Homo sapiens: one gene and its partner. The protein of the gene in region 1 purifies or fractionates together with the protein of each later gene. This does not show direct contact. Each region holds a gene or a part of one and is shown on either strand. Other genes may lie near its edges.

What was found. Proteins that work in one complex are often made in the same cells at the same time.
Region 2: the proteins of ANXA8L1 (region 1) and RMP24 purify together in Homo sapiens (co-immunoprecipitation; one large-scale study listed by IntAct). This does not show direct contact.

What each region holds. Positions count from the first base shown.
Region 1 is NC_000010.11:46,374,339-46,378,575, forward strand, and holds the start of ANXA8L1 (annexin A8-like protein 1), read left to right. Parts: upstream 1-1,437; 5' UTR 1,438-1,513; coding exon 1,514-1,534; intron 1,535-4,237.
Region 2 is NC_000018.10:35,975,679-35,979,778, forward strand, and holds the end of RMP24 (UPF0711 protein C18orf21), read left to right. Parts: intron 1-1,731; coding exon 1,732-1,922; intron 1,923-3,156; coding exon 3,157-3,328; 3' UTR 3,329-3,600; downstream 3,601-4,100.

The sequences.
Region 1 (4,237 bases):
AGAATAGTTAGTGTCTGTGCTACATTTCCTAAAAAACTGTTTCCCCAGAAACTATATACAGCTTTCAGGTGCCTCAGTGCTTCAAGACATGCTAAGGGAGGACCCTCATTTGTCTTGCATGTTTTTGGGATTTTTCTTGAGATGTTCTTGCAGGACTCAGGGCAGATAACAGACCAGCTTGATGAAGAATTTAGCAAGGAAGGCCCCCACTGAGCTGCTTCCTGTTCTCGCAGAGATCAGATAAGCATTTCTGCTGGACAGTTACAGAATCTGGTCAAGGAGAGACTGAGTCACTGCTCATCATCCTAGAAGCTGCTGTTGATTTTTTTTTTTTAAAGACGGAGTTTCACTCTGTTGCCCAGGCAGGAGTGCAGTGGCATGTTCTTGGCTCACTGTAACCTCTGCCTCCTGGGTTCAAACAATTCTCCTGCCTCAACCTCCCCAGTAGCTGGGACTACAGGTGCCCGCCACCACTCCTGGCTAATTTTTTGTATTTTTAGTAGAGATGGGGTTTCACCATGTTAGCCAAGATGGTCTCGATCTCCTGACCTCATGATCCACCTGCCTTGGCCTCCCAAAGTGCTGGGATTACAGGCGTGAGCCACTGCACCTGGCCCAGAATATTTATTTAGAGACTGATGTCAGGCCTAAGTGTTGATAGTGGGTAGTAGTGGGCAAGATGCCTGGCCCTCTCTCTTTCTTCTCATGAGAGAAGGTGGAATGCCTTCCACCAAAGAAACGAGACCTCCCCATGACCAGCTGCTCCACTAACCACACATCCTCCAGTGATGCCTCTGAATGGTCCCGAGGGGCTGTGGTGGCTGGGCAGAGCCAGGCAGGAGCCAGAGTCAGCCTGGGGGGTGATGGAGCTGAGGCCATCACCGGTCTGACAGTGGACCAGTATGGCATGCTGTATAAGGTGGCTGTGCCGCCTGCCACCTTCTCACCAACTGGCCTCCCATCTGTGATGAATATGAGCCCCTTGCCCCCGGAAAAAAAAATAATATTGCATATACAGTTGATTAAATGGCATACTCCATGGCTATTAGGAATGATGAAAATGGGCTGGGTGCGGTGGCTCACACCTGTAATCCCAGCACTTTGGTAGGCCAAGGTGGGCAGATCACCTGAGGTCGGGAGTTTGAGACCAGCCTAATCAACATGGAGCTGTGTTTACTGAGTGGGGCTTTCGCAGGCTGGAGCTAAGAATTTCCAGTATGCGTAACAGCCACAGCCCAAATATCTGCCAGTGAGTTGTGTAATTCCCCAGAGCAGGCCTGGGCAGTGTCTGGGTGGGGCCTGGGAGCCACAGGAGACGCCCAAAGCCAGGCAGAGCCCGGGGGCGAGGGGGCGGCAGGCAGGTGTAGCGCTGCCCTGGGAGGGCTTGCACCCCCACACCCAAGTGAGCGGCCTGCTCACTCCTCAGCTGCAGGAGCCAGACGTGTGGAGTCCCAGCAGAGGCCAACCTGTGTCTCTTCATCTCCGTGAGAAAGGTGCCCCCGAAGTGAAAGAGATGGCCTGGTGGAAAGCCTGGGTAAGTGGGAGCTGGCAGGAGATTTGCGTTCCTGCATGGTGTTGGGTGCTGGTCACCAGGGAGTCCTGAGAAATGTAAAGTCGCCCTTGGCTGGGAGTGGCTCAGTCTACATTTGGCTGCCTCCTGGGCCAAGCATGGAGGGTGGGAAGGGGCCGAGAAGAAACAGTCCCAGGCCTAGAGTGCCCACGGCAGGGATGGGACCTGGGCCGGGAGACAGGCTGATGAAGAAATCTAGAAATGCAAGGGGGAAGCTGAGGTTTGAGAAGAGTCCAGGGGAGGGACCCTTGCAGGGGTGGGGCCACTCAAAGGAGGGGGTATCATGGTTGAGCCTTGTGTGTAAATGTGTATGGGGTGCACACACGTGTGCATTTGGGGAGAATCAGGCATACTGCTCCTGGCAGAGGGAACTGTGTGCAGAGGGTCAGAGGGCGGGGAGCTTGGCTTTGAGGGAAGCTGCTCAGCACAGCTCAAGGGTCCTGGTACCGGAGGAGATGGACCTGGGGAAGCAGGCAGGGCCAGGTCCTGAAAGGCCTTGCCTGGCAGGCTGAGGAGTTAGGCTTTACCTTAAGAGAAGTGGGAAGGCACTGAAGGGCTTTGAGCATGAGAGTAACCTGAACCTGCTGTTGGGGACCCATCAATGCCTTCACCTCAGGGATCAATGATGTTCATTTGTCAAGACTGGAGAGGGAAGAGGGGAAGCAGGAGGACCTAGCCTGCTAGAGCCTGGAGGAACCCGGGGCTCAGGGCAGCCCATGCCCAGCAGAACTGATGGGTTCTCGGGAGCTTTCTGTCTATGGTTGAGCCTGAGGCCATCGCTGTGCTAAGGAGTTGAATATCCAGAAGGGGACAGAGGTGACATCTCCCGGCTCCCGGCTCTGCACACCCTTTTCCTTTCCTCCCAGGCAGCCTCAGGATGTCAGGGCTGCACTTTCTGTTTTGCAGATGATGAAATGAAGGCTCAGAGACACTGAGTGACTTGCTAGGGTCCAATGGCCAGCAGGCTCCAGTCAGAGAGCAGTTGGGTCTCTCTGCCCAGCCCCAGGTTCTCTGTGAGCTTTTGTGGGATACCCAGGCTTGTACAGCTTCAGGGAGTCTCTGGATCATAGATGTCGCAACCCAAGCAAGTGTCCTCAGGGTCAGACATGCTAGGTTCTGGACAGGTGGGACAAAGAGGAAGCCAGGCTGAGGTGGGGCAGCTGTCCTGGCCCCCAGGGAAGCAGCCTTCTTCCAGGACAAGGGGCCATGGAGGCCTGCAGCTTCAACCAGACTGCTGGGAACCTGCCTTTGAGGAGGTGGACATGGCAGGGAGAGCCCAGTGCTGGGTGGTTTCCAAAGTCAGTTGCTGGCCAAGGCAGTCTGGCACTGGGCCTTGCACCCAGTGCAGCAGGACAAAGGGCTGTCCATGTAGGGACCTGCCAAATTGACAGGATCACTGTGACACTCACTGAGTCCCTACTCTGTGGCCGGACCCTTCTCTAAGCACCTCACATTCAATATCTCCCTTGAACCTCACAAGGAGTCTATGAAGTAGACACCAGTATCCTTATCCACAGATGAGGAAACTGAGGCACAAGTAGGCTAGGCAGGTGCCCGAACTCACTAGTAAGTGTGAGAGTCTAGGTGAGAATCTGAACAGCCTGACTCCAGGGCCAAAACCATACCCTGGTCGTCCATACCCCATGTGAGAGCTGGCTCGGGGTAGCAAGTTCACAGGTAGACCCCACCTGCAACAGCTGAGCTGCTAGCGAAGACCCAGTGTCCTCTAGGCACAAAGCTGGGCCAGGAACGGGATGGGAGGAGATGAGGGAGCCACTGGAGAGAGATCTGTCTGCAGGCAGGGCCCATCTGCACCTCTCTTTTTGGTGTTGCCTTTTCCTCTGTGTCTCTCATAGAGACAAACCCATCTCCCAGGCCTCTGGGCAGCCACGTAGCAGGGGAAGGCCAAGGCATGGCAGCTCCCCTGTGCCTGTCACAGAACAAGTTATATTAATAGATGTAGTCACAGGCTGGTCTGAGTCACCTTTTCAGTGAAAATGTGCCTGTCTGGACTAGCACGGCCCTGGGCAAGACCCTGCAGGAGCCTGAGGCTGACCCTTCCTTCTCAGCAGGAGGTCTGGAGCTCCAGGACTCCACACTGATAGCCAGGGCTCCGATTCCCAGAACACTTATTTTCTAAAACCTTAGAGTGGGAAGTGAGACAGAGGCTTCTCAATGCAGCAAAATCAGAACCAGCCAGGGAGCTGCTTACAAATGCTGCACCTGAGACCTACCGCACCCCTGCGGGACTGCATGCTCCTCAGGGATGTGGTTACACAGCCTGGCCACTCGCTGGTGCACCACAGCCCCCGAGTGCTGGGGCAGAGGGAAGCCGGCAGGCACTGAGAGCTGAGATGCCTCCCACATTCCCAGACGACCTGCGTTCCTGTGGGTGAAGCTTCCTTCAGTGGAACGTTCCAGGAACACTCATTGTCTGGGAAAGGTGGAGTCATCAGTAGGGCAGGGGAGGTAGATAGAGCTCAGCTTCTGAGTCAGGCTGGGGAGTCCCAACAGCATCACTTACTAGCTGTGTAAGGGAGTCCAGCTCCCTTTCTGTAAAGTGAGGCATCAGTACTTACCTAGCACAACTGTTGAGGAAGCCATGACATAAGCATTGCTTCTAAAGCACCTGGCCCAGGTCTGGCACACACAAGGGGCTTGAAGTGC
Region 2 (4,100 bases), on another chromosome or scaffold:
CAAATACACTTTATATCCCTGCATATTTTATGTTAACATTTATCAACTGTTCAAGTGCCTGCTTATTGTCTATCACTGTGCCGGGCACTGGACATTATGACAGCTTATGTCTGGCCTAAGACTATAATTAGCAATTACTTGGATTGAAAATTGTCATATTTAGGAGTTTACCAGTGTTGGTCAGGTAGGTGCATTTTGCTTTGTCATAAAATTGAATGGTTAAAGGGAAAGAAAGAAGAGATAGAATATTGAAGTGAGTATGGAATTCGGTTTCTTAGTTCTTGGAGAATTGTATTTTTCAAAAATCATTACTGCCACATATTTGGAAAATGTTCTTAAATGGGAAGACAGCAAATGCTGCCTCACTATCTTGCAGTGTTTTGCCCTCATGAAGCTTACATTCTAATGTATTTTAATCAGAAGTCAGCTAGAAAGGTGCTAGAGGTATTTGTTTTTCTGATTTTTTTTTTTTTTTTTTTTTTTTTTTTTGAGACGGAGTCTCCCTCTGTCGCCCAGGCTGGAGTGTAGTGGCGTGATCTCGGTTCACTGCAAGCCCCACCTCCTGGGTTCACGCCATTCTCCTGCCTCAGCCTCCTGAGTAGCTGGGACTACAGGTGCCCACCACCACGCCCGGCTGATTTATTTTAACCTGTATACAGCCTCCTTCCAAAAAGTGTAAAGCAACATAGACCTTTGATAGATGCAGATCTTCCATTGGCATTTTCATCTGCTCATGAACATCAAACTACTTCTCACTTAAACTAGTTTGTATTAATTTGCCGAGGCATGGGCTGAGTCCTGTGCACAGTCAATTAGATATGTAGAAGAAAGGAAATTAGCTAGAAAATGGACCATTTCTTGAGAAATGAATCTTGAAAAGAAAGACAACCTCTAGAGCTAATGATGGGAGTGGAGAGGTGTGAGAGTATAACAACTCATTTGGTTGTATAAGTTACTTTAGACCTATGTTTACAAAATTGCTAAGGATTTGAAGGGGCTACTTAAATTTCCAGTGATACTGTGCCATGTTGTTTTTGGGAAGAGGCTTGAAGTTCATCTGCAAAAAAATATTAAATGCTTACTGCTGTTACAAAGAACATTCCTCCAGATGTTAAAGAGTATTATCTCCCATCTCTTCCCAAATTCCCACCAAACATGGTTTTATATTTAAAAAGTAGAGTTCATTATCTTTGAAAACCTATTTTAAATTAAATACAAATGTTTAGCCATTCATTTTTATTGAACATTTTCTCATTTAAAATTTGTCGGCTGGGCACAGTGACTCAAGCCTGTAATCCCAGCATTTTGGGAGGCCGAGGCGGGTGGATCGCCTGAGGTCAGGAGTTCAAGACCAGGCTGGCCAACATGGCGAAACCCTGCCTACTAAAAATACAGAATTAGCCAGGCACAGTGGAAGGCGCCTGGTCTCAGCTACATGGGAGGCTGAGGCAGGAGGATCACTTGAACCCAGGAGGCAGAGGTTGCAGTGAGCTGAGATCACGCCACTGCACTCCAGCCTGGGGACAGAGCAAGACTCCGTCTCAAAAAAAAAAAAATGTCTTGTCTGATTCTCGCTACTAGATTGCAAGTTCCCCAAGGACAGCCTCTATTTTACTTACCCCTATAGTATCTGGTGTAGTCCCTGACATTTAAGAATTCAATGAACCTGTGGTTTATGGGGTTAAATTATAAGATAAATGACGGGACTGATATTTCTTATTTTTATGGTAGTTGATCACTTGTAAAACATGCAACAGAACAGTGAAACATCATGGTAAAAGTAGAAGCTTTGTGTCAACATTGAAGAGCAATCCTGCCACTCCTACAAGTAAACTCAGCCTGAAGACACCAGAGAGAAGGACTGCAAACCCAAATCATGACATGTCTGGCTCGAAAGGCAAGAGCCCAGCATCGGTTTTCAGGTATCTTAATCCATGAAGTTTTTGAATTGCCAGTGTTAAGTGTTTTCTTCTAATTTCCTGTGTTTAATATATACTCCCTAAATATGCCATGCATTTCAGGACTTGGCCATTTTTCCTCCATACCCTTTTCTAATGTCACATACTCCCATATCTTCAATGCTCATTTCAATGCATTTGACTTCTAGGTATGTTACTCTACTTCCAACATCTCCTGTGCCTATTTCCAGCTGCCTGCTAAATATAACCACTTCAGTCCCCTACATGTTCAAAACTTAGTTCATCATTGCCCCACAGCTAACCACTCAAACCTGTCCATCCTCCTGAGTTCCTTATTCTGTGAATGAACACACCTTTCTGGACATTTTGACCTAAAATGACAGGTACATTCAAAAATCCCTATTCCCTTGGTCCTTGTCACCGATTTCTATATATCCTACTTCCCTGTTTTCATCTTTTTGCTCCTTTTTCTCCATAGTGCTGCTATATTCTGGTTCAGGTCCTTATGCACCATTTGTCAGGACTACTGCAGTGATTTTCCTCATGGGTCTCCCTGCTTCTAGGATCAAACTCTTTTAGTGTGATCATCTTTCTGGAGCATAGCTCTGATTAGAAGCATCACTGTGTAGCATATGGATAAATGCTCTAGCATGGCTTTCCAGCCCTATCTGGCACCAGTCTGTCTGCCTGTCTTTCTTTGCCTTAAATCATCCTATGTGCCAACAAAACTGAACCATTCACGGCCGGGCATGGTGGCTCACACCTGTAATCCCAGCACTTTGGGAGGCTGAGGTGGGCGGCTCAGGAGTTCAAGACCAGCCTGTGCAACACGGTGAAATCCCATCTCTACTAAAATACAAAAGATTAGCCAGGCGTAGCGGCGTGCGCCTGTAGTCCCAGCTATTTGGGAGGCTGAGGCGGGAGAACTGCTTGAACCTGGGAGGCAGAGGTTGCAGTGAGCTGAGATGGCGCCACTGCACTCCAGCCTGGGCGACAGAGCGAGACTCCGTCTCCAAAAAAAAAAATACTGAACCATTCATAATACACTTTCTTGCCCTAAACATTTGTTCTTGCCCTTTTCTCTGTCAGAAATTCCTGAGGAAATCTAACTGAACAGGGATTTGTCAAATGATAATACACCGAGGATAGCCAGTGCATGTATATGGCCATAATACAAAAGAGTAGAAAATGATTGTCATTTGTTGGTATAACTAAGTGTGGTTTTGTTTCTTTTCAGAACACCTACATCTGGACAGTCAGTATCTACTTGCTCCTCAAAGAACACCAGCAAAACAAAGAAACACTTCTCTCAACTAAAAATGTTACTTAGTCAGAATGAATCCCAAAAGATTCCAAAGGTGGACTTCAGAAATTTCTTATCTTCTCTGAAGGGTGGACTTTTAAAATAAGAAATGCCTGATGTCAATTCTGAAACTAAAGTTGGTAAAACAACTTTTTAAACTCTTATTCATTTTTTGAATACATGGAAACTAGATCTGAATGCAAACTTTTCTTGGCATCCTTCAGTGTTTATGGGGAAAATACCTCATTAGTGTGAATACCTGAAACCTGCCTACCTCATAGGACAGCTGTGAGGATCAAAAAATATATGAAAGTTCCTTGTAGATACATATCTATAGATATATATGTGTATGTATATAAAGATAGATATATACATTGAGTAGTGGCATTACTGTTTTTTCTTCCTTTAGTCAGCAGTTTTTATTTATGTTATTGTCTTTCAAAAGGAAATTGAGATCTTTATGAGAGGGTCTATTCACTCAAGGGTTTCTTCCATGTGTCTATAGCATTGTTGATAATTCAGGAATAGGATCAAGTGGGTCCTTATTTTCTCACAATTATCTGCATAACTATCTTAGTAAAACCTGAACCTTATTCCTATTTTGATTGCAAAAGTAAATATCTGGAACATTCCTGATTATAGATCACTCAATAGGAAACTAAAATTTTCTTTCTTAGAAAAGGAAACATACTGTTGGTGATACTATAAATTAGTACAGCAACTTTGGAAAACAGTATGGAGGTTCCTCAAAAAACTAAAGGTAGAATTACCATATGATCCCATATCTGCATATATATCCAAAGGAATTGAAATCAGTATGTCAAAGAGATGTCTGCCCTACAGTGTTTCATTGTAGGATTATTCACAATAACCAAGAT